Regions from separate parts of the Homo sapiens genome. Here all the other regions are linked to region 2. Evidence: fine-mapped expression QTL. A gene starts in region 2. Each other region holds a variant in brackets. All regions are shown on one strand. Distances are between the middles of the regions. Region 1 holds the start of SPATA32 (spermatogenesis associated 32). Region 2 holds the start of MAP3K14 (mitogen-activated protein kinase kinase kinase 14). Region 3 overlaps MAP3K14 (mitogen-activated protein kinase kinase kinase 14).

Region 1 (8,174 bases), 58 kb before region 2:
CATTCTCCCCTCAAGAAAAGTGTCCTGGACCCCAGGGTTGGGGCCAACAGGCTTTCAACAGGGCAGACCCCAGCCTGAGCATTCCCAACCTTGGTGAGGCCCGACCCCCAGGGTGGAAAGCCGCCTAATGCCAGTGTGGTCCTTCCCATTTTGAACCCAGGCCCCTGTGCCCACCCTCCTTGGTCCCCAGGCCTCCTCCAGCCCTCGCCTTGGCTCTGCGCCTCAGTCCACTGGAACCTCGTTCCAACAGCCTTTATGAGGTCACTGAGGTGGAGGCGTCACAGCCCACCACATCCTGCTCCCAGGCCCTCATTCCACTGTTCCCCACCCCTACCCAGCTGTGTGAGGACCCCTGCCACGTTCTAGCACAGCCCCTCTATGGGAGCTGCGGGGCTGGCCTCACTCACTCTTCCTTGCTTCCCTGCAGCAGAGGGGACGTGGCTGGTGGCTGGAGAAGCTGGATTTGCCCTTTGATGGTGGCCCTCTTGATCCCCGGCTTGCTGAAGTCAAAGTAAGATTGAGCGAAGTTCTTGTCTTCCTGACTCCAAGATTTCAGTGGTGCTCTGGCTTCGCGTGGTTTCTCTGGCAGGGTCTCTGCGTGATTTTCTGGCTCTCGCTCCTCCACAGTGGTCAGGAGGGGCTCTGTGGAAGGCTCCAGAGCCTCCTGGGGTGGAGCTTTCATCATGTGTTCCAAACTGGGCAGGTCCATCCTGCTGGAGGAGGCCATGGCCAGGGAAGATGCAAAGGTGATTAGCTCTGTCAGGTCAATGGGTGGCGGGAGATCTGAGGACAGGAGGGGGCTTGGTGCCTGGGAGCTTGTGGTTGGAGGAGCTGAGTGGGCATCAGGGATCTGGAGCTGCTCCTCGGAGCACAGGGCGTTGGTGGGGATGGCCTCCCGGAGCGGGGATCTGATGGGCTGGCCTGCGCTGCCATTGTTGAGCTGCATGTTGATGGCCCGCTGCAGGCTGTGCTCTGAGGCCTGGATGAGCTTGTTTGCCCAGAAGAGGTGCTTGGAGGTCTGCGCACTGATGGAGTGATGGCAGGCAGACACGTGGTTCTCCTCCGTGAAACTCCGGCAGTTTGAATTCAGACTCCACGGTCTGAAGGTCTGTGGCGTGGGCAGCCCCATGTTGGAGTGGACGGACTCTATCTTGCATACCAGCTGCATGGGTTCTTCAAAGTCAGACTCCTCGTTCGAGTTGGCTTCCGTGTCCAGCTCAGCTTCAAGCTTGAGGGCTGGGTATAGCTCTGACTCCAGTAAAGCCGGCACCTGTCCGATCTCCAGTTCTGGGTCTGGGTCTGGGTCTGGGTCCAGGTCCAGGTCCACTTGGAGTTGGGGCTTCTGCTCTAGCATGTCTGCCTCCAGCTGAAATGTTTCAACTCAAAGCTGAGGAGGCAGGAGCGGGAGGTCCTGCCCCTGAGGCCCTCCCTGGCACCGAGTCCCTGCCCCACCCCTGCCCTGGGTCCTGCTGTCTTCCCCCCGCCCCCTAACCCCATGCCTGCCTCCTCTCAGAGACCTGCCCGGTGAGGGGGTGTGTGTGTGGGTGTACCCACACCGGCCTGGTACTAGGGTCCCAGGATTGTCAAGGGTAGGGGCTGGTGGGGACTTAGGGAAGAGCCCTGCCGCTTGCCTACCACCTCCCCGTAAGAGGACACTCCCATTTTTACCTCCTGTTCCTCTTGTATCTGGTGTTGACTTAAGTCATCTCTAAGACAGAAGAAGACAGAGTGGGTGATGGGGATCTGTGGGGCTTCAGCGGGAAGGGGGTTTCTGGGGCCCTCAAAGCCCTCTGCCTTGTAACAGAAGCTGGCACGATGCACCTCCCGCCGACCACCCCGCCACCAGCTCATCCACTCCCCTGCTGTCCCACTCCACTGCCACCAGGAAGTCTGCGGTTGTATTCTGAAACTTTAGTGAGTTTAGGAAGCTGCTTGCCAACTCATGCCCCACCCCCAAAGAGGAATCCAGTTGGTTGGAGGTAAGGCCCAGGAATCTCATTTTTATCAAGCACTGCAGGTGAGCTGGGGCAACTCACTTCGAGGATTAGTGCCCAGAACACTAGTCCCCAGCAGGGGAGCCCCAGAGCAATGTCCTCCCACCCACCTGCCCACTCTTTCTTCAAGTGCCTGCCCACCCCCGCCTTGAGCAGCTCTGTCCTCAGCAAGCCAGGCAGCTCTGAGGGGTCAGGTCCTATCCTGTCCCTGGGTGTGCCCCACCACCCCTCAGTCTTCCTCTCATGCCAGGGGCTGAGGGCATAAACAGAAGTGGGAGGATAGGCGCCCCACGCCCTCCCCAGCCTTTTGGCCTGGACACTGGCCCCGGGGAGGTTTTGGAAATGGCAGAAGGGAGGGAGATCCTAGGCTGGGGGATCCTAGGCTGGGGGTGAGGTCGGAGGTCCTGGAGGGCTCGGGGGAGGCCCTACGTTGATTGAGGATGGTTCTCACCGCATCTCTGCAACCTCCACTGACCCTTTGCCGCAGCATGGAAATCCATGGGCACCTGACAGGGGAAAGGAGGTGAGGGCAGGGAGCTGCAGGGTAGAGGACAGTCCCAGAGGGATTCCGGAGCCAGCCCCCTTTTCCTGCCCTTCTTTTCTCTCTTCCCGGCTGCTATTCCCCCTCACCGTCCTGCCCCGCTCTCCTTGTTCCCGAGCCGGTCGCCATTCCTATCCTCCAGTCCTGCTCCCTCCACTCTCCGTCTGTGCCTTGCCTCCTCGGAGGCTCCCGGTTCCATCTCCATCCCCCAAAACCGTGACTGCTAACAGTACCCTGAACATGACAGAGCGCTTCCATAGCCTGGTCACTTTACCTGCTTTATCTCACTGATTCAACACAAAAAATTAGGACAGGTCCATTTGCCCAAGGTCCCCCAGCTGAACATAGCTGAAGTGATGACTTGAATGCAGGCTTGACTCAGGAAACTCTTAACTCCCTGCCCCCACCGGCTACTCCCAGGACCCTGTAACTGCGTGGAGTCCCAATAACGCCCCATGTGAACCTCCCCCATCTCCCCATTCCTGCTCCTCTGCCGGCTTCCTCTCCTCTCTCTGGGTCATCCATCACTGACTCCAGGCCAAGGCCTGCACCCCAGGTGTGTAATCTGAGGTGGTGCTAGCACCTATCCGACGATTTATGAGCTCAGATCACCCTCTGCAGGGGAGACTGACTCCTTGGGAACGTCCGCAACCCCAAACCCCTCCCTGGAGGCTTGTATCTTTTACTGCAGAAGCTGTTTCTTCACCCTGTGGGAGTGGGAAGCACCAGGCTGCCCTGTTCTCTGCTACCCAGGGCCATGCATAGGGGTTGATGGTGGGGCCATCATGACAACCCTGCCATCATGCAAGGTGGGTCCCCATCAGCCTGGGGTATGGCAGGAAGTGACAGCCCTGGCTCTGGCTGGGAAGAATCGCTCCCAGGATCATATTGGAAGGATGAGAATGTACTGCGGTCTCTTCCTAGAGATGTAGTGGCTGGAGGGAGGGGTCCTTGCATGGCTGGTCTTGGGATTGGGACCATCTGCTTCAGCCTGGTCTTGGGGGATGTATCAGCAGAGTGGCCGGCTCAATGATCTCTTCAGAACCCTCCACCTCCTTGACCACTATGCTTCCCTGGCTTCCTCACGTGTCTCTCTTCTCCCTCTCCAACTCCCCCTGTCCCAGGTCCTGCTGTTCCCCCAGGCTTCTGACCTCAGGGCCTTTGCTCCCTTTACAGAATTTCCCTGGGCAGTTTAATCAACACCCACAGCCTCAACCCCTCCATAAACGGCAGCTGGGTATGGACAGGAGAAGAAATTACTGTTGTGTGAGCCTCTTAACAGCACTGGGGGCTGGGAGAAAAAGTCAGACATTGACTCAGCTTGGGACCTCGTTGCCTGACTTGAGAATGTTCTATTAGGGATTCAAGTGATATTCTGCAGTATATGAAATAATTGAAATAATTTTTTTTGAGGCAGGGTCTCACTCTGTCACCCACGCTGGAGTGTAGTGGTGTGATCTCGGCTCACTGTAACCTCCGCCTCCTGAGATCAAGCGATTCTCCTGACTCAGCCTCCTGAGCAGCTGGGATTATAGGCATGCGCCACGACGCCCAGCTCACTTTTTGTATTTTTAGTAGAGATGGGGTTTCACCATTTTGGCCAGGCTGATCTCAAACTCCTGGCCTCAAATGATCTGCCTGCCTCGGCCTCCCAAAGTGCTGGGATTACAGGCATGAGCCACCGTGCCTGGCCGAAATAATTTCAATTTCCAGTGGTTTGTTGCTAGTATACAGAAATATATCCATCTTTTGTATCCTGCAACTATACTAAAATCTTATTTGTTCTCATAG[C/CT]TTTTTTTTTCTTTTAGATTCTATCGGATTTTCTACATAGACAATAATGTGTGTGAGTCAAGACACTTTTACTTCTTCCCTCCCAATCTGGTTCCTCTTATTTTCTTTACTTGCCTAATTGCACTGGGGACAATCTCCATACAATGTTGAGTAGGAGTGCGTGTGTACATCCTCGCTTCGTTCTGAGCTTAGGGGAAAGTGTTTAGCCTTTCACCATTAAGGATGATGCTAGCTGTAGGTTTCTTCATGATGCCTTTCATTAGCTTGGGCATCTTTGTGAAGTTTCGTCTCTTAGATTGCTTAGTTTTAATTAGGAATGGATGCTGGATTTTGCCTAATGCTTTTTCTGCATTTATTGAGATGATCATATGGTTTTTCTTTAATATGATATTATATATGTTATACATAACATACGTTATAATACATTAACATATGAGTAATGTTATATTATTTGAGTGATAATTCTTTTATATTTTTATATTCTGTTTATGGTAAAATACATTGTTTTTTTTGAGACAGGGTCTCACTCTGTTGCCCAGGCTGGAGTTCAGTGGCGCAATTTCAGCAACCTCAACCTCCCTGTCTCAAGTGATCCTTCCACCTCACCTCTGGAGTAGCTGGGACTACACGTGTTCACCACCACCCCCAGCTAATTTTTGTATTTTTTGTAGAGATGGGTCTTGTTATATTGCCCAGGCTGGTCTTGAACTCCTGGGCTCAAGCTATCCACCTGCCGTGGCCTCCCAAAGTGCTAGATTATAGGTGTGAGCTACCATGCCCAGCTATAAATTTATTTTTTAAAATGTTAAATCAGCCTTGCGTTACTGGGATAAACCTCATTTGGTTGTGATATATTACCCTTTTTCTATGTTGTTGAATCTGATTGGCTTTTTTTCAGAATTTTCACATGCATATTCATGAGGGATATCGGTGTATAATTTTCTTTTCTTGTAATGTCTTTGTTAGGTTTTGATAGGGAGGATGGCTTCGGCCCGGGAGGCAGACGTTGCAGTGAGCCGAGATGGTGCCATTGCACTCCAGCCTGGGTGACAGAGCAAGACTCTGTCTCAAAAAAAAAAAAAAAAGGAGATGAGGTCTCAGTATGTTGCCCAGGCTGGTCTCAAACTCCTGAGCTCAAGCGATCTTCCCATCTTGGCCTCCCAGAGTGTTGGGATTACAGGCGTGAGCCACCATGCCTGGCCTAATTTCTTACCTCAAATTCATATCTTGTATGTCCAGACTCTTAAGTGTGGCTGCCACGGTTCTGCCTGTCTGACCCCTGTCTCCCTTTCTAGTCTGTCATCTCTCCATACCCCACTCTCCTCGCCCTATTCATCCTTCATCCTTTCACCCAAATGAGAAACCTGGGTCATTTGTGACTCCTCCTCCCTCCGCAGCTACTGCCCTCCTACCCCTGATGCTGTCCTCATCTCCCAGTACCAGAGCCAGCACACACCCATGACTTCCTACCCTTTGGCACTTGGTGCTGAGTGCTTTGCACATTCAGTCTTCATACCTACCCTATGCCCAGTTGGCCACGGCTCTCCTCTCACAGATGAGGAAACGTGTATGAGGTCATGCAGCTATTAAGAGCAGCACACGACCCAAAGGCAGGTCTGGCTGGCTCCAAACTCTGGGATGCTACTCACTGCACTGTCTTAAATCTCTTTAGTCTTCCAGTGGGACCACTGCAACTATGTCCCCCTCCAACCTGGATTTTCAATGACCTCAGAGTGAGCCTGCTACATCTCACTTGTCTCCGGTTACCCCCAGACTCCATGTGGCCTCTTGGTCTGATCTCTACCTTCATTTTTCATCTCTTGGCATCCAGCTTCCTGTCCCTCACCCTAAGCCGAAGCTACCCCCAGAGTACCGCAGGCCTTTCTGCACCCAGTGCCTTTGCAAATGCTATTTCTTATACCTGGAAAGCCTTCTTCTGGCAAAGTCCTACTCATGCCTGAAAGCCCAATTCAAATAATCAGTGTAATCCTCTCCATGACAGACCTGGCTGTCTAATCTACGTTTTACCTTACAGGCGTGAGCCACTGCACCCGACCTCTGGTTTTTTTTTTTTTTTTTTTGACAGGGTCTTGCTCTGTGGCCCAGGCTGGAGTGGCAGCATCATAGCTCACTGCAACTCCTGGGCTCCAGTGAGCCTCCCAGCTCAGCCTCCCAAGTAGCTGGGACTACAGGCTCATGCCGCCACACCTGTCTAATTTTAAACATTTCCTGTAGAGGACAAAGTCTCGCTATGTTGCCTAGGCTGATCTTGAACTCCTGGCCTCATGTGATCCTCCCACCTCTGCCTCCCGAAGTGTTGGGATTGCAGGCGTTGAGCCATCATGCCCACCTAATTTTTGACCGTTTTTAATGCTGGCCCATGCCCTTCTGGGAGAGAGGATCCCCAAAAGAAAGCCACCATTTCAGTGGGGGATCTGACGCCCCTATGGGAAGGGGAGACACAGGGCACTGGGGGCAAACATCTTTGCTCATTGGTTCAGAGAAGAGTACAAGGCATCAACGAAGCGCTCCGTAAAAATGTGCTGAAGACTGCCGCTCCTCCCTGCAAAGCCTCAAGCATCAAGGAGGGACAACTGGATGTGATTTTTTGGATCTGCAGTTCAGGATAATTCATGAGTCGTTTCCTGTGCACAAGGCCATTGCTCCTTCTGTGGTCTCAGAACCCCTTCAAGAACCACTGACTCTGCAGTCCCTACTCCAAGGCGCGCATGCGTGTCCGTGAGAGCACATGGGTGTGCACCGCGCAGGGGCTGAGGCTGGGAGCCGTAGTCAGGGGCACCGGGTGGGCTTTGGCGGCGGGTCGACCTGCCTTTCAGGTGCCGGGGGTTTGGGAGCAGGGGAACGGGCCCTGGGCGGATTCCTGACCGCCCCCTTCGCGCCCCTCCCCCTCTCACTTTCGCTTTCCCCGCCTGCCCCAACCCTCGCCCCCGGGCGCTCGGCCGCTCCCACCTGTCACCCCCATGCAGACCGAGGCTCTGTCCTGGAGGCGGGGAGCGGGCTGGTGGATGCTGCCTCTCCGCCTCCAGTGTGCTCTTTGGCTGAGGGACTGGTGGGCGCTGGAAATATTAGAGGCGCCGGTGCCTGTGATGTCGCCGCCTCTGTGACGTCCCCGCCGCGACCCCACAGGCAGGGAGCCGCATTTAGGTTTCGGGCGGGCGGACGGGGGACGGCCCGAGTGAGGCGTCCTCCGAAGGCTGCGGGCCCGAAGCCAGAACTCCTTCCTCTCCGAAGACCTCGGGGGTGGGGCTCGCGCTTCCGCAGCGGGCCTAGAGCGAGAGGCAGGCGGCAGGTAAGCCTGGCTGTGCTGGACAGGACTTGCACCCGCTCTGCACGCCAGCGGCTCAGGGCTGCCGCCCTTTTCGTGGTCCCAGGGCCCTTCCAAGAACCGGCTAAACCAACCCAAGCCGCGCGCACACACACTTGTGCACACAGGGAGTGTGGAGCCAGATTCGATAAGGCACCCCGTGTGCCCCAGCTCCATGACCAAGGAACTCAGCACCCCGTGTGCCCCAGCTCCATGACCAAGGAACTCAGCACCCCGTGTGCCCCAGCTCCATGACCAAGGAACTCAGCCCACAAAGGCATCCCTGGCCCCATGCAGGGCTCAGGAGGCAGCGGAAAGGGTTAAGAGTCCAGGCCTCAAGGACAGGAGGGGAGGGTGGAGGGCCTGTGGTGTGCATCCGGCATCCCTGGATGGTCAGGGCCCAGAACCCATCCCTATTTCCCTTCTGGTGGTAGGGGGCTGCCTAACTTGGGCAGTGGCACAAAGCATGCAGGCTTTGTTGTCCTCCTCCTCCACCCCTCAGCCTGGCATATTTTGGCGAGGG
Region 2 (8,174 bases):
ATGGGGTCTCGCTATGTTGCCCATAGCTACTTGACCTCCTGGGCTCAAGTGATCCTCCCGCCTCAGCCTCTCAAGTAGCTGGGACTAAAGAAACACACGTCACCATTCCAGGCTTCTTGTGAGATTTAAAGGGGAATCTGCAAGTCCTTGACTGCAGATCGTGGGCCCCCAGACAGAGTCTCAGAGAGAAGCTGACAAAGACATCTTTACGAGGGGGAAAGGGTGGTGAGCTGGGGATGCCATGTGGTAGTGGGAACCTCATCCCACAGAACCAAATGTTCCCTCCTGTTCCCCCAAAGAACAAGTCCTTGCTGATCTACATGCCATACAGTATTTTCCCTTTCCTCACCTCCAGGATTAATGCAGGAACCTACTTGATCACGTGTGGGACACAGGAAGCCCCTAGACAGGCCTAGCTGTGTCTCCAGCTCAGAGTTAGGATTGTCAACTGGGCAGAGCCTGGACCTTTGTAGCCTCATTTGGAGTATGGTGAGGGCAGTATATAGTGTAAGACAGGGAGAACCCGAGAGCTGAAGCTTTTAGACTGAAGGACTGTCCCCCTAAAGGTCCTACTGAGAAAATGACTCTGGCCTGTCAGGCAGTCTGACCCTTCTTGACATCATCTTACAGAAAACAGGTTTAGTCACAATGCAGTAATTGGCAACTACTACTGCTACTATTACTACTACTACTACTACTACTATTACTACCACCACCAAACACCACCAACAAGAACAACAACAACAACAACAACAGTTACAGCCTCTATGTTCTGTGCTGGGCACTGGGCTCAGCACTTTACATATCTCCTCTCATTTTCTACTCAAAACAGCCCCATGAAGTATTTCTGATCCCATTCACAGATGAGGCACCTGATGATTAGAGAAGTGAAGTGATTTGCTTGCGGGCACACAGGCAGGCCGTGGCAGACCTCGACCTGACCCAGGTCTCTCTGACCTGACAGCCTCAGCCACCACATGTGACACGGAGACACCAAGGACTTGTTCTGTTGCTCTGGACAAATCACGGGCTCTCTGCCTTTGTTTCTACATCTGGAAAATGGGCACAAGCACACCTGTCCAGGCAGCAGGCTATTCATCTTTTGGCCTTTTATTAATTAAAAATCAATATCAATTAATAATTGATTGGTACAATAAATAAATAAAGCTGCTACCCTGGTTTCGTTATGTTCAAAATTGACATGTTTGGGGGAAGAAAATCCTTATCGTTTCATGAGCAAGGTAGTAGAAAAAGCAGTGACCTAGATATCAAGAAAAGGGGGTTTAGATTCTGAGCAATCCTGTCTGTTTCTCCTTATGAGGCTTCACTTTTCTGATCTTTGTCCCTGCCCTTCTTCACATGAGTATGGTGTGAAAATACAAAGACTGGCCATAAAATTATTCTTGATGCCACATAATTTCAAGGGATTTCTATCAGGGAGCTGAGGGATTAAGACATGTAGAAAAGCAAGAAGGGAAGAGGCTCCTTTAAACTAGAATACAAAGAGCACACCGGCCACTGAAGAAAAATGACTTTTTCTGCATTGTCATTCAGGCAGTCATAAGCCCAGAACAAAAAAATCTCATACTTCAATGTCCTGCTCAGCTCAACAGAAATGCTCCCCTACAATTTGCCCTACGTCTGGCCTTCCCTTTTTGGGCTACTACTTTCAGCATTTTAGCCAGCATCACCGAGTAAATGCAAAACCTTCACACATGCATCACTTTGAATGCCCACCCAGCTCTTGCAGATGCTCAGCCCCATTCTGTTCCCTTACTAGGGAATCCTGGTGTGTGGAGACCAGAGGGGCTGACATCCTTAGAGCTCCCTAAATCCACTGACATGGAATTGTCCCCGGCCCACCAATTTCACACTGGTGCCATCAATAGTGCCCATAATGCTCAGATGTTTCCAGTTTAACTGAAATACTAAAATGGGGCAAACAGGAAGCATCAGACACAACTGTGGTAGTGACTTATTAATCACGAAAGCAGAATTTTAGTTGCATTTTAACCTTTTGCCAGGAAAAAAAAAAAAACAACCTTGAGATGATGGAAGCCATTAGTAGAAGTACGCTGCCTTTATGCGTATTGGGCTGACTTAGACTTTTTACTTAGGACTGACTTTGCTTTTAAGATTTCTGAACTTTCCCCCCAGAAAGAACATCTGTCAAACCAACCAATATGAATCTGTCAGCTCTTCATCGAGGCAGGCAGGCTTGTTAGGAAAGCCCATGTGCTGTCCATTGAGACAGGAAAAAAAATAGGAAGTTAAAAGTGCCTTCACAGGCCAAAGTGATACAACACTGTTCAGAGGGTGCCAACAACGAAGAAAACAACCCTGGATAAAGCTTTCATCTCTTTCACATCTCCGCAGATCTCTCACCAGACCCTAGCCAGGGATGAACTGTTATCAATCACCAAAAAAAAAAAAAAAATCACAACAGTTGCCGAGGGCTGGACAACCAATCAGCGCAAGCCATCTTCTCAGCAGTAAATGATATACACATATTCCAGGCAGATCACAAAGGAGTCAGTGTTCAACAGGAGAACCAAAATGAGGAACCAAACCTTCATCTGTTGAGGCGAAACAGCCCAACCAGACATTTTTGTTTAATAGAGGGAGACTGATTTGGCAGGGTCTCTGTGGTGCCGCTCCCACAAACTCTTAACAGACAATACCAATGACAAAAAACCCCCTTCAGAACTGCTTCTTATAATCAGAAAACACTCAGAAGATGGCCTGAAGCTTGGCAGCGTCTTGCTGTCTGATTTCACAAAGAGCTGGTACACATACCTGGGTACTTATCTCTAAAATTAGAGTCAGAGACGATTACTTTTATTTTGAGATCTTCTGAGAAGTTCTCCACACCCTTCAAAATAAATAAGGATGTCCGAAAGGTGTCTGAAAAATTCAGAGGTCTGGCATCGCTCCAAAGAAACTGATTGATATCACTTAAAAAACACCAAGAGTAAATCCAAACACAACCAAAGTAAGGCAAGCACTTTTTAAGTGTCCTCTCACATTAAGAGCATAAAAACCACACCAAAAACTTCTCCCTCCTTTCTGCATCTCAGTTCTATAATGTGGTCCTGATCTAGGATTCTGGGAAAGACCCATCCTTAGTCCCAGCTATGAGGCATCAGGCAAGATATATACCACCCCCACTCCCTCATACACACCTGCCTCAGGTGCCTCGCCCATAAAACAAGACACTACAATCTGTCTTACCACACAGCCATCTGAAGGAAAACGGAGCTCACAGGTATGAAGACACTAAGCAAAAAACACATCACTAATGTTAAGATACTGTCTCCTTCTAATCTTTCAGAAAGACCATGTTTCTAGTCAAGGGGTTTCCAACATTTTTCTTGGAATAAACTCCAGACTCCTATTTTATATCATGACCTCACTCTAATCATTTAATTTCATGTGCTTTTAAAGTCCTTAATTAAGTCATTGGTGTTCATTGTCTCCAGCGATCAAAAGTAGTTTTACCATTTACTTTGCTGATGTATGTACCTTTTCACCACTTATCCTCTCCCTCATTCATACCTCCAGTCCACCCTTTAGGGCCGAGAGCAACTTTTTAACCTCGACTAGGAAGGAAACACTTTTTCTGAAGCTACCCAGCACTAAGGAGGCTCCCGGGCAGGTGGGAAACGTACGTACAAGTGGCCCCTCTCTGCCTGGTGCCCAGTGGCTGCAAGATGCCAGGGCCACGATGGGTTTCCAAGATGGGAATGTTATATTTGAACCGACAGATAAAGTCCCGAGTTGGAGAGCCCAGAAGAATTACAGAGGAGGACTGGGGTCCGAGGGCGGAGGGAGGATGCTGCGGGCGGCCAGCACTGCCCCGCTGCATGCTGAGGACAGGCTTAGCTCCTGCTCCCCGCCTTGAGGTGTGACCTGAGAACTTCCCATGAAAGGCCGGGAGGGTTTCACGCCAGGGCAGATGCCAGGGCGCACTCCTGCAGGAGACACGTCCGCCCCGCGGCAGGCGAGCTCCATCCTGGGGGCACTGGGGCGCAGAGCAGGCGGGCGGGCCTGGCGGCGGCGCGGGGCACTAGTGAAGGGGAAGCAGGCGGCCCCTGCGCGCGCTCGGAGCCAGCGTGTGGCCAGCAGGAGTGCGCGGCCTGGAGGCCCGGGGCGAGCGCGGCACCGGCAGCGCGTGCGAGGGCGCGCCCGCGGACCGCTGCGAGTGGGTTGGACGGGGTACGTCGGACTGCGCTGGCCTGGCCGCCGACCCCACTGCTCCGGGGCGAGGGGCCAGGCCGCAGCCCAGCCCGGGGCTGAGAGGCGATCCATCCCAGCCGCTCCCTGGTCGCCTCGCACCGGGCCCCAGGGTCCCGCCCCGTCACCTACCGGCCAAGCGCCGATCTCCCCAACCAAGCGAGTGTTGCGCTCCGCTCGCCCGCGATCTCCCGCCGCCGGCCGCCGACCGCTGAGCTCCCGGCCCGTGGTCGCCCCGCCCCGGTCCCGGGCTCCGCCCCCTCGCCTTCTCGGCCGCCCCCGGGGCCACGCCTCCCCCGGAGGCTGTAACTTTGCCTCGCTTCGCGCCTCCTTTCTTTGGCCGCACCGCGACCCGTGGCCCCGCCCACTCCCCTACGCCAACCAATGAGACGGTCGTCCCGGCAAGCCCGTCTTCCCGCTCCCTAGCAACGATTGGTTAACGAGGCCTGGTTTCCAGAAATGGGCACTATTTCCGGACGATGTTTGTAGAAGGGAGATCGCTGGGCGGGCGGACTGACAGAAGGCGGAGGCGACTAGGGTGTTGGTGGAACCACACATGCGCCCTCGGCTTCTGGCAGTCTTACCAGCTGCGTTCTCGAGGTTACGGGAAGGAAGGGCGAGTGTGCGCATGCGTGGGCACTCCCTGCCACTGACTTCGGTTACCTTGGAGACAGCGAGGCGCTCTCCCTCGTGGGTCGCGCGCGTTCCGCTTCCTCTCTGCTGCCAAGCGGTGGCGGCTGAGGCGGGAGGTGGTGGGGGTAGAGACGTTTTTATTGAGCTCTTACCGTGTGCCTGGTCCTGTAGAATCCCTGGAATGAGTAAAGAAGGTTACAGTGCCTGCCCTCGAGAAGCTTGGGGAGCCAAGGGCTTACAGGGGCCCGACCTGTGGGTTGAAACCCAGGTACAAAGAGAGCATGTGGGTGCGTGGCGTGGTACGAGCGCTGAGCAAAGCATCTGCTCTCTGGGTTTGCAGACCACAGAGCCAGCAAGAGGATGAGAGCTTGATGTATGCAAAGAAAGGACCTGGAGTTCAGAATATGCATTGAAGTGTCAACAGTGCTTCTTTCTGAATGGGGGTCGGGGGTGGGGAGTAGGGAAGGTATAGAAACTTTTTCTAACTTTTGCCCCTCTGTATTATCTAGTGTTTCCACACTGAGCTTGTATTTTATTTGTAATAAATTCCAGGCCAGGCACGGTGGCTCACTCCTGTAATCCCAGCGCTTTTGGGAGGCAAAGGCAGGAGGATCGCTTGAGGCCAGGAGTTGGAGAACATCCTGGGCAATATAGCAAGGACCTCGTCCTTGCAAAAAAATAAAAGAATAGCCAGGCGTGGTAGTTTGCACTTGCAGTCCCAGCTAGAGGGGAGGCTGAGAGTCTGAGGTTACAGTGAGCCATGATCGTGCCACTGCACTCCAGCCTGGGTAACAGAGTGAGGCAGTCCTTTAAAAAAAAAATCCAAACTTTTTTTTTTATTGCAAAATAAAAGATGTACTCCTACCCTGGGCATCCCACTTCCATGAAGGGTCCATGGTAGGTGTGGTGAGTGGCTCTAGTCCGGGGATAGGCAGGCCCCACCCAAGGCTGTCTTGAAAAGTAAGGAACACCCCATCTCTGGAAGTGTTTGAGCAAAGACCACCATCTGCTTGAGACTACTTTGCAGACAGTCCGAAGCTGAACTCTTCTTTCTGGATATCTGTGCCAAACAGTCATCTCTGCTGGGGAATAGGGAAGACCATTTATTTAGGCAGTGGTCAAAAACTCACAACCTGAGGGCCTCATTCACTCACCCAGGCCAGAAATATGCTTTGTTTGGCTGGCCCAATATTTTTTTAAATTTGAATTTGAATGCCTTAGAGCAGAGCCTGCGGTTCCTTACAGTTCCCGCCACCCAACCATCTAACCTTATGTCACCTGTCTGGCCCCTGGAGCATTTGAGGTTGTGGCTCCCGTAGAGTCCGTGCTTTAGAGCCAAACAGTCTCTGGCGCCCACCCTGGCTCTGCCACTGACTAGCTGGGAGATGGCAGACAAGAAAGAAGCTGGACTGGTGGCCCCCAAATCTCTTTCCACCCCTAGGGTTTTGCATTTCAGTGACTCAGGGAAAGGCAGAGCTTGGCCAGATGTACAGGTTGGTATCGGCAATCTTGGATGCCCTTATTGCCTCTCCCACCACCTGTTTGCCTCTGGGCACACCACTTCTCAGGAAAGATGTGGGCACACCTCCAGAGTCTGCAGACACTCCCTGGCTTGCCTTTGCCTTCTCTCTCTTTCACTATTCCTTCTTTAAAACACCCAGTGTCTCTGTACTTTGCCCAGGTTCCCTTGACACCTCTGGTCCTGGGTCCCCTGTACACTCCCACCTACCCCATCAAGATGATCTGTCTTTAAGTCCGTCCCTGAACATTAATGTGTATTAATCAGAGACAGTGAACTGTGTTGACTCAAAACTGTAACTCTGGAGAAGGAATGTCACATCAGGTTGCAGGGGAGGAGCAAACCACTAAACACTGGTAAGGAAGATATTCGGGATAAGCAAGGCCTCTCCGTTTCAGCTACTTTTCTGAGGTCTTTCCAAGCCCCACTGTGTGTGGGTGAGGTGAGAAACAATACACCTACCCAGAGTGAGCAGTGTGGTGTCTCTGAGTCTTGAAATGCTTGCACCCTCTGGAAGGAGAGCTTCGGGACGAGATTACTTCCTCCAAGCTTAAGTCAAGACAACCTGGGAAAGCTTCTGGCCTTGAGTCACTTGTGCAGCCTCAGCTCTGCTTTAAATACAAGAAATTGACATTTACAGGATGACTCACACCTGGAGCAGTGAACTAGGTTCTCAGTACTCAAGGGTTCTCACACCCCATCCATTTCAGGTCTGGAAATAGCGTTAAGACTGTGCTATTCCGAAAGAATCGCAGCTTGTTTTCTGATACTTTACAAAAAGTAAGCCAGATAGACTTAGAGTACTTCATGTGCATAACCTCACTGAATGTTCCCTCTAGGCCAGGGTTTCTCAGCCTGGCACTATAGACATTTGGGGTTGGATAATTCATTGTTGGGGGACGGGGCTTGTATTCGCCTGTTTTCACGCTGCTGATAAAGACATAGCTGAGATGGGGTAATTTATAAAGGAAAGAGGTGTAATGGAGTCACAGTTCCATGTGGCTGGGGAGGCCTCACAATCATGGCAGAAGGCAAAAGGCATGTCTTACATGACAGCAGACAAGAGAGAATGATGAGAGCCAAGTGAAGGGGAAACCCTTACAAAAACATCAGATTTCATGAGACTTACGCACTACCATGAGAACAGTATGGGAGAAACTGCTCCAGTGATTCAATTATCTCCCACTGGGTCCCTTGCACAACACGGAATTGTGGGAGCTACAAGATGAGATTTTTTTTTTTTTTTTTTTTTTTTGAGATGGAGTCTCCCTGTGTCACCCAGGCTGGAGTGCAGTGGCGCGACCTCAGCTCACTGCATCCTCCTCCTCTTGGGTTCAAGTGATTCTCGTGCCTCAGCCTCCTGAGTAGCTGGGACTATAGGTGTGCACCACCATGCCCGGCTAATTTTTATATTTTTAGTAGAGATGGGGTTTTGCTACGTCAGCCAGGCAGGTCTTGAACTCAAGTGATCCACCCACCTCAACCTCCCAAAGTGCTGGAATTATAGGCATGAGCCACTGCGCCTGGCCTCAATGTGAGATTTGGGTGGGGCCACAGCCAAACCACATCAGGGCTGTCTTGTGCATTGCAGGATGTTTAAAAGCTTTCCTGGCCTCTGTCTACTACATACCTATAGCACTCCCTCATCCACCCAATGTGACAATAAATGTCTCTGGACATTGCTAGATGTCACCAAGGAAGCAAAATTGCCCCCGGTTGAAAACCCCTACAGTCTGACCCCATTGAATAGGTAGTATTACTGTCCCCATTTCACTGATGAGCAAACTGA
Region 3 (8,174 bases), 26 kb before region 2:
TATTAATGCAGTGCCCACATTCAGCAAGCAGGAGGTGACCAACCAGAAGAACTCAGAACAGAAGACGCTAAAAAGGCTGTGAGAAGTGAGATTGGCGGAATAAGAGATGATACTTTTCATCCACAATGAGCACTGTCCTACTGTTTGATTTGTCACCACAGGCAAGAGTGACTCTGATAAAGAGAGAAAAGCATCCCCCAGGTTGCTGGTAGAGGGACATATACAGGTGCCGGGGGATTAGTTACCTCAGTGAGCAGGACACCCTCGTTGTCCTCAGTTTTGGGGCTGGGCTCCCGGGATCTGGAGCCCCTTGCTGCCCAGGTCTTGGCCAGGCTGGTCAGGCTGTGGGCCTGGCCTGAGCTCACGCTGCCTTGCAGAGCATGCACTAGGTATTCCTCCACAGAAAACTTCTCATGGGCACCACGAGACAGGCAGCTGGGCTCCAGGTGTGGGCCAGGCAGGGGCTTTGGACTGTCTACACAGGCCAGTTTGCTCAGGTGTGGGTCAGGCAAGGGTTTCTGGCTGTCTACACAGGCCAGTTTGCCCAGGAAGGACTCCAGAGGGTGAGGTTTCCAGGGCTGGAGAGGGTGGAATGGGAAGGGATGAGGCAGTCTGCTATAGGGGAAGGGGTGCGTGGGCAGGGGCAGGGGGCCTCCGTCCTGGGGGTGGTGCAGTTTCCACACGTGGTTCAGACATTGCAAGGGGCTGATCAGTTTGTGGAGTTCTGATCGAGGCAGAGCCGGCCGTAGGCCCTCGCCAAGCTGCTTAAAACAGAGTTGCCCAAGGCCTGGTTCCTTCAGAGGCTTGGTGAACTGCGGGGTGTTTCTAACATATGGGGCGCCGAGTGGAGACTCATCCTCCTGCGGGGGGAAACACAGCTATCAGCACAGAGGGCCAGGGCCCAGGGACAGGCTCCAATTTCAAGGCCCCATGAACCTGGGGTCTGGGCAGTGGGTGGAGGGTCTCACCTGCACTGGGATGGTGCAGCTCTCCTGCTCAGGGGTCCTGGGGAGGGGTTTGGCCAAGGCCACTCCTGCATGAGCCAGGGACTTTGAGCTCTTCTTCTTCCGTTTCTTCCGGGCTTTGCTGCGACGCTTTCCCTTCCAACACACACGGGCCATTTTGCCCTCTGTAGCATGGGCCACATTGTTGGGGATCTGATCAAGACTCTCGGACTGGCTGTCACAAAAGGGACAGATTTGCATATTGAGCACGAGGAAGCAGGAAGATGGACTGGTCCAGACACTTGTATCTGGACTCCTGCAGATCCAAGGTCAAATCCCAGGTTGCCATTCCTTGTGTGAATGCGGCAAGGTTTCTAAATCCCAAGGAACCTGTTTTCTCACTTATCTCACTTATAAAATGGGTTTGGTATTTTCTGCCATACAGGGTGGAAATGAAGTTTCAATAATTTAGTTCATTTAAAAAGCCCAGCTCAGTGTCTGGCCCCAAGGCAAGCTGCCGAGAAGCTGTGCTTGTTACTATGGTGATGGGGTACAGACTCAGCACTTCTTGGGGAGAGTCAGGGGAGCAGACACGGTTCGCTCACTGCTCTCCAAGGTGAGCTGCCCCTGGAGAGTTCCTAGGAGGGGGCCACGCTCATGGCAGGCCTCTCAGCTCTGACTGAGCAGAGCTTGTTTCTGTTGCCTCCGGATGGAGGAACAGGTAAGGCTGGTCACCTCCATTCTCACAGTTCCTGGGGGTCCCTGGCTGCTGTTGAAGGTGAACAGCCTGGGCTGCTGCCTGGTACTGGGGAGCCTGCCCTTCTCTGCTGGCCTCGGGGCTCATCACTGCCATGGCTCTAACTGGACTGGGATCCCTGCCAAGTATTAAAGGACCCGGCAACAGATGGGTTGCTGCAGAACAGCTGTGGAGCAGATCATGGCCTCAGCCACCCTCCCTTGGCCTCATCTTCTGCCCCCATGGAGAAGGCAGACTCATGGCAGTCCTGGGGACCACTGGAGGCCTACAGGCTTCTCTTGGACAGCTGAAAGAAGTGTGTCTATCAGAGGCTCCTACCCTGGGCCAAAAGGCACCCAGGACAGCAGAAGGAATCCCACCAAACTGAGCATTTCTTGGTTCCAAGGCAGCCAGCTGCCCTCCCCACAATCTTATCACTAGCAGGTTCCAAACTCCAATGATACAAAACCTGCCTGGTGATAGGGGAAGGAGCTGTTTCTAGCTTGAACTCTTGTTTTTTTTTTTTTTTTTGAGACAGAATCTTACTCTGTCACCAGGCTGGAGTGCAGTGGCACAATCTCGGCTCACTGCAACCTTCGACTCCTGGATTCAAGCGATTCTCCTGCCTCAGCCTCCTGAGTAGCTGAGGTTACAGGCATGCGCTACCATGCCCAGGGAATTTTTGTATTTTTAGCAGAGACGGGGTTTCACCATGTTGGCCAGGATGGTCTCGATCTCCTGACCTCGTGATCCACCTGCCTCGGCCTCAGAAAGTGCTGGGATTATAGGTGAGAGCCATTGTGCCCAGCACTTGAACTCTTGTTTCAAAAAATCATCTGTGGGGGAATGCAGAGCCTGGGAACAGACTCAGCCCCACCCTGGCTTCCTTTCTACCGGGCCACCAAGTCTATCTGTCCCCTCCTTTTCTACCGCCCGCATCCCTACTCGGTGCATCTCCCAGGAGAAAAGGCACCAGCAGGTTTCTCCCATAGAGGACAGTGGAAGGCCCCCCCCACCAACCCGGCCTGCGCTCACGGTCACGCAAGAGTGGGAAGCAGCTTCTGTTCCCAGCACCCTCCCTGTTGATGGGAAACGAGGGGGTGCATTAAGGACTCTGAGGAGAATAAAAATAAAATGTCAAGTTGATGTGGCCCAGAGGCAGTCAGCCACAAGCTGTGAAAAGCCTTTGAAAAGCTTATTTGGCTGAGAGAGCGGCTCAGCCAGGAAAGCCTGGGTGAGTTCCAGGAGCTGAACCACAGGTGCTGAGGGAGGGAGCCCGGGGTCAGCAGGAGCGGCCCAGGCAAGTGCTGGGGACGAGGGCGCTGGGTCCAGTCCCCACCTTCCCACTCAGGCTTGTCTCCCCTGCTTACCTGTACTGTTTGGACCCAGCGATGAAAATGCGTTCTGAAAAGGTGGGGCTGAACTCTTGGCTATTCTCACCTAAAGCAAAAGGAGTTGGATTAGCAGAGAGGAGAAAAAATAGGAATTTAGCACTTAGGGGAGAGACATTTTACAGAGATCCCCTCTGGCGCCTCTCCTTCCCCTCCTTTCCAGACAACCCCTGTCTGGCAGTCACCTCCCCACCAATGCCTCCTTCCCGCACTGTCTCTCCCCAGCTTCTCAGCTTACTGGTCAAGAGCAGACCACGGCCTCAGCCACCTGCTCTGAAATAGCCAAGCCTATATTATGGGGATCACAGGGCGCCCGCCTCACTTCCTATGAAGCTGAAGTGAGATGATCTACAGAAAATGCTCAACACAGTGCCTGGCTCATAGGAAAAACAGCTATTAGGTATTTATATATGTGTGTACATATAAGTGTGGATATATGTGTATTTTTTTAAAACAATTATTATGTCACTCTCTGTATTTTAGTTTTTATTCTCTCATCTCTCCTCAAAAACCAACCAGGAGGAAGTGGGAGACGAGGGCAGGATGTATGCGTGTGGAGAAATGACAGCATGGCTGTCCAGCTCTCCAGGTTCCACCCCAAGAAGCCTCCCGGGTTGAGGGAAGGCGTTGGAGAGAGAGGACTCCCGGCCCTACCCAGGCCTCGTGGGAGTTTCTGTCTCCAAGGGAAGCCACCATTACTAGTCATCATAAGGTATCATGAGTAGAAGAAGAAAGGACCAGACTAGGTCTCACCCTGCAGCAGCCTGCCGCCCCAGGACTGGCCCAGCAGGCTCAAGAGCACGGTGCTCATTCCTGGGGGTGGGGCCACCTCTAGGTGGAAGATGGTGAAGGCCCTACAGGCCCCAGTGGGGCTTTCCAGGAGACCTGGCCTTTCCTGTCTGGAGCCTCTCCAGACACTGGGGCTGCTCAAGGTCACAGCAGAAGGTTGATGGCCTGCTTGATGATTCTGCAGAGTCCCGAGTGCTCGTCTGTTACCTCTCTTCCCCTGCTCCAGTCACGATGGGCACAG[T/C]CTCCCCTTGCCACATCCACCATCTGTGCACTTTTACAACCCCACTTTCCATGATTCTCGGCACAGACCTCTGGTTGTGTCTCATGAGAATCTTATCTAGCAGTGACACAGACCTCTCTCCTCCATAGGGAACCCCTGGGCCCAGCTACCCACCTGCAGGCCCACCCACCTGCCCCGTGCCCACAACAACCCTAGGCCCCTACACTCAGCCTGGGCGATGATAGAGATGGCAGCTGGCCCTGCCTCGGAGCCTTCCTTGGCTGTGCCCTTGGTAATCACGTCATTCAGGATCTCCCACTTTCCGCAGAACACAGGGCTCTTCTCCACGGCCTCAAGCTTGTAGACGGAGCTCTGTTTCTTCCCCAGTGGCGGCGTCTTCTCCTTGGCTTTGGGGAGTTCCTTCTGCTGCCCCACTGCTGAGCCAGGGGCACCTGGGCAGGCCATTTCCATCACTGCCATCTCCCAGGCTTGTGCTCATCCTGAGAGAGACCAAACACAGAGCAGGTCACTTAGAATCCCAGACCTGGGAGAACACAGGTCAGCCTTGGGTTGGGGGAGAAAGGCAGGGGCAAAGGGTCTCTGCCTGTTTATGTGTGCCTCTGCCACACATACTCATCCTCCAAACATCCTCAATGGTAACAGAGTCCACCTCTCAACAGCTACACGTTCCACACGGCACAGTCCCCCGGTCCTCCCAGTACCACAACATAAACAGCCTCCTTCACTGTGTCCAGCAAGGATGCCAGCCCACTCCCTCTAGGAGAGCTGTGGCACAAATGTCTGGGTTGGCTCTTTCTTGCCTTTATGATGGCTCGATCTTTTTCTGTTGTTTTATGGCAAACTTTGTTTCCCCAGGACAGGGTGGTGAATCCCAGACTCCAAAACCATGGCCTCACTGACCCCACATAAGCCTTTGGAGAGGACCTGTTGGCACACACCATCCACAGCGACTTTTCTCCAAGTGGAGAGAAGCAAGGTTCTATTCTGTTCCCTAGTAGGAGGTAGATATCTGTGTGTGTGTGTGTGTGTGTGTGTCCTACAAAGTCTAAAACTCAGCATGCAAATGGTGCTCAGCACGTGGTTCCTTGCCCAATGCGTCTGTTTGTGGCTCTCCAGAAGGAACTAACATGCTTCCTCCTCTAATGTCCAAACTCATTGGCTGAAAACTTCTAGGTATCATTTTTCATTCAGGCAACATCAGGAGTAGAATTTATATTCAAGGCCCTAACACGAACCTATACCTCTAGAAATAAAGAATAAAGCATAAGAATTCACGTCTCTCTGGGTTCTGTCTTGCCCAGCCCTAGGAAGCTGCAAAGAAGAGCAACCCAGAGTTGCCAACAATCTGTGCAAACAGCCTGCAGACTGGAATTGGCAAAAAAGAGAAGAGCACTGATTTGAGACTGTTACCATTTGGAAACCTTTTTAAAGGCTGGGAGTTTTTAAAGGGCAGGGCCCCTCTCAGGCATGACTTGCTTTAGAAACAGCCTGAGAAGGTCCCAAATGCAGACAGATTTTTAATAACTGCTCTCTGATGGTAGGTTTGTCTTAAAGCTGCTACCAGCAGAAATCATCTTCCTTGCTATAACTCTGTGAACCCTGGATCACTTCTCTGCTTCTGGGGCAGACAGGTACACCATCTGAAGCTGAACTCTAAGGCCTCTGGCCTTTTGCCCTGTGAGGCCTGAGGACTGAATGAGATGGTGGGAAGCTGAGGTACTAGGTTGAAGCATTCCTCCTTCTGAATCTGCCTCACTGGTCTTCCCACCTCGATGGCTATGAAAGGCTCTGCCAGCTTGGCTGGCGGGTGTGGTGGGGTTTGTTGTTCACTATTGATTAGTTCCTTGCATCTCTGTCTTTAAGGGTCTCCTAGCTCTGAACTTGGAGCAGCTCCAGCTTCCTGCAAGGATGCCTGGATTTGGTACCAAACGCCAGATGCTGAGGAGGCTGAATGGGTGGCCTCACTGTTACCTGAGGATCTTAAGAAGTCTGAGGGGGCCGGACATGGTGGCCCATGCCTGTAATCCCACCACTTTGGGAGGCTGAGGCAGAAGGATTACTTGAGCCCAGGAGTTCAAGATCAGCCTGGGCAACATGGTGGAACCCTGTCTCTACAAAAAAATACAAAAAATTAGCTGGGGTAGCTGGCCTGTAGTCCCAGCTACTCTAGAGGCTGCGGTGGGAGGAATGCTTGAGCCCAGGAGGTTGAGGCTGCAGTGAGCTGAGATTGCACCATTGCATTCTCCAGCCTGAGTGACAGAATAAGACCCTGTCTCTAAAAGAAAAAAAAAGTCTAAGGGGTGTTCTGACATCCAATTAGGCAAAAGCCCTTCAAGGCTGGCTATGCTTCTTGTAACTGTACTTTCATCCCACCTCACACCTCCCCACCCCACTCTACCTCCAAAAAAGAAACTGACCTAAGCCCAGAGCCGATCCCACTGTTCTCAGCCTCTTTACCAGGGGAAATGAGATCTTAAGAACAGACCAAAAAGTCTCCAAACCTAACAGCAGTAGGGAATGCTCACAGGGAGCTCGATGTGAGCGTGACCTCCTCATTTCTATTTGAAGAAGCTGAGGCCTAATTCAGTGGAGACTTGCCCAAGGTCACCCAACCCACGTGTGACAGGACATGGCCAGGATCCAGACCCTAGGTTCTTTAGGCTATGATGCCCACTCCCCAAGCTCCTGGGTTACAGGCAAATGCAGGAGGGCACACTAAGGTCCTCCCTGGTCAACAGGCTCCTGAGGGAAGAGGTGGGGCCCTGCACACAGTGCCTCCCCAGTGTATAGCACAGGGGCCACAGACCACGCAACTGACGCTGGCTGAACGAGGGACTCAAAGGACAAAGATTGCTTTTCCATAACCTTTGGAGACAGGATGATCCCGAATGCTGAGGAGGAAGAGAGAGTCCTGCCTGATGAATGAGAAAAATGAGGCCAGGTGGTGCAGTTGCTGCTCTGAGGGGCACGTGGCTATTAGAGATCTGGCTGTGTGGGGGCTCTGATAGCCTGTCTCCGCCTGGCATGGCCCAACGGAGGCTTCTGGATAGGTCATCCTGAGCTAGAACTCCTCCAGAGGGGGTGCAGGGCATCCCGAGTCCCAGAGTTGTCCTTTCATATTGGTGTTAGGTAGGCAGCTGTCCAGCGCCCCTCTGTGAGCACACCAGGCTCCCCTCTTCCCAGAGAAGTGGAAGCTGAGGCTGAGGCAGCCACGCTCAGAGACTCCTTTGCAGTTCCCCGATGACTCATCCAACAGCCTGGCAGGCAGACAGTAACAAGGAGGCTGTTGAGAAGCTGACCCAGCAGATGGCAGCTGAACTTGTGAAGGACATGGGGAAAACAGGCTGACCCTCACCTCTCAGGGGCACAAATCACGGCCTGGGAGCTGTAAAGCTCCTCCTGTGGCTGGCTTTTCTGTGCCACATCACCATGACTCAGACCCTCACCGACAGCCTCCAAGTTCAAGAGGCTATTCTTGGGACACTTTGGCCTGACAGTGGCTCTCCCCAAACACCACCTCCCACACAGACACACATGCACACACACACATGCACACACAGACACACACACATACGGATGCACTTGCTCCCTCCCTCCTTTCCTAATTCTATCTGGACTCTGGTCTACAAAAATCATGGTTCTGTACTAAGTCCAGGACTACTGGCCAGGGGGCCTTCCCAGCCCTGGACTTTGGTCTCTGGCTGTCACCCCAGCTCATGGCCCTAACACTTTGCCCCTTCTCCCTCCTGCAGCGTGTGGGGAGGACGAAGTGGGAGCCAGTTATGTCTCTGCCTTTGAAGGCAAGTCAAACTCCTGATTCATTCCTCAGCCTAGACACTCTCCTCAGCTTATTCACGCCCCAAAGGCATTGGGCCCTCTACTCTCTGCATAAGAGTTGAGGACACGAGCAGTGGCAACAGCCAAACCCACATGGCTCACCCATAAGCCCAAGAAATCAGAAGAGGAAAGGAAAGGAGCAGAATTCACTCCATATTCTTTGAGGCCTGATGCACAGACACTGTTGGTTCTTTCTTCTGTGATGCCTCAGTGACCTCCTGGAGAAGCCTGGGGGA

The links. PIP is the estimated chance that this variant, and not a neighbour inherited with it, causes the effect. A credible set is the group of variants that fine-mapping cannot tell apart.
Region 1: its variant is the best candidate, but not a certain one, in a credible set for the expression of MAP3K14 in whole blood (TOPMed, PIP 0.87).
Region 3: its variant is the best candidate, but not a certain one, in a credible set for the expression of MAP3K14 in whole blood (INTERVAL, PIP 0.66).

What each region holds. Positions count from the first base shown.
Region 1 is chr17:45,254,708-45,262,881 of GRCh38, forward strand. SPATA32 (spermatogenesis associated 32) reads right to left here and starts at 7,387. Exons shown (of 5, transcript NM_152343.3): 1 at 7,297-7,387; 2 at 2,446-2,500; 3 at 1,669-1,708; 4 at 408-1,366. The coding sequence starts at 7,309. It overlaps MAP3K14-AS1 (MAP3K14 antisense RNA 1), which reads left to right. Exons shown (of 4, transcript NR_110326.1): 2 at 428-511. RefSeq lists enhancers at 1,195-1,955, 7,219-7,824, 7,301-7,390, 7,825-8,174 and silencers at 7,031-7,150, 7,221-7,270. The variant C/CT (reference allele first, on the strand shown) is at 4,327.
Region 2 is chr17:45,312,595-45,320,768 of GRCh38, forward strand. It overlaps MAP3K14 (mitogen-activated protein kinase kinase kinase 14), which reads right to left and starts at 4,426. Exons shown (of 16, transcript NM_003954.5): 1 at 4,366-4,426.
Region 3 is chr17:45,286,186-45,294,359 of GRCh38, forward strand. It overlaps MAP3K14 (mitogen-activated protein kinase kinase kinase 14), which reads right to left. Exons shown (of 16, transcript NM_003954.5): 2 at 4,305-4,580; 3 at 3,051-3,120; 4 at 969-1,179; 5 at 246-860. The coding sequence starts at 4,560. Among named protein-coding and RNA genes, the nearest start is that of MAP3K14, 27 kb to the right of the region's middle. RefSeq lists silencers at 4,286-4,489, 7,298-7,592 and an enhancer at 7,298-7,592. The variant T/C (reference allele first, on the strand shown) is at 4,102.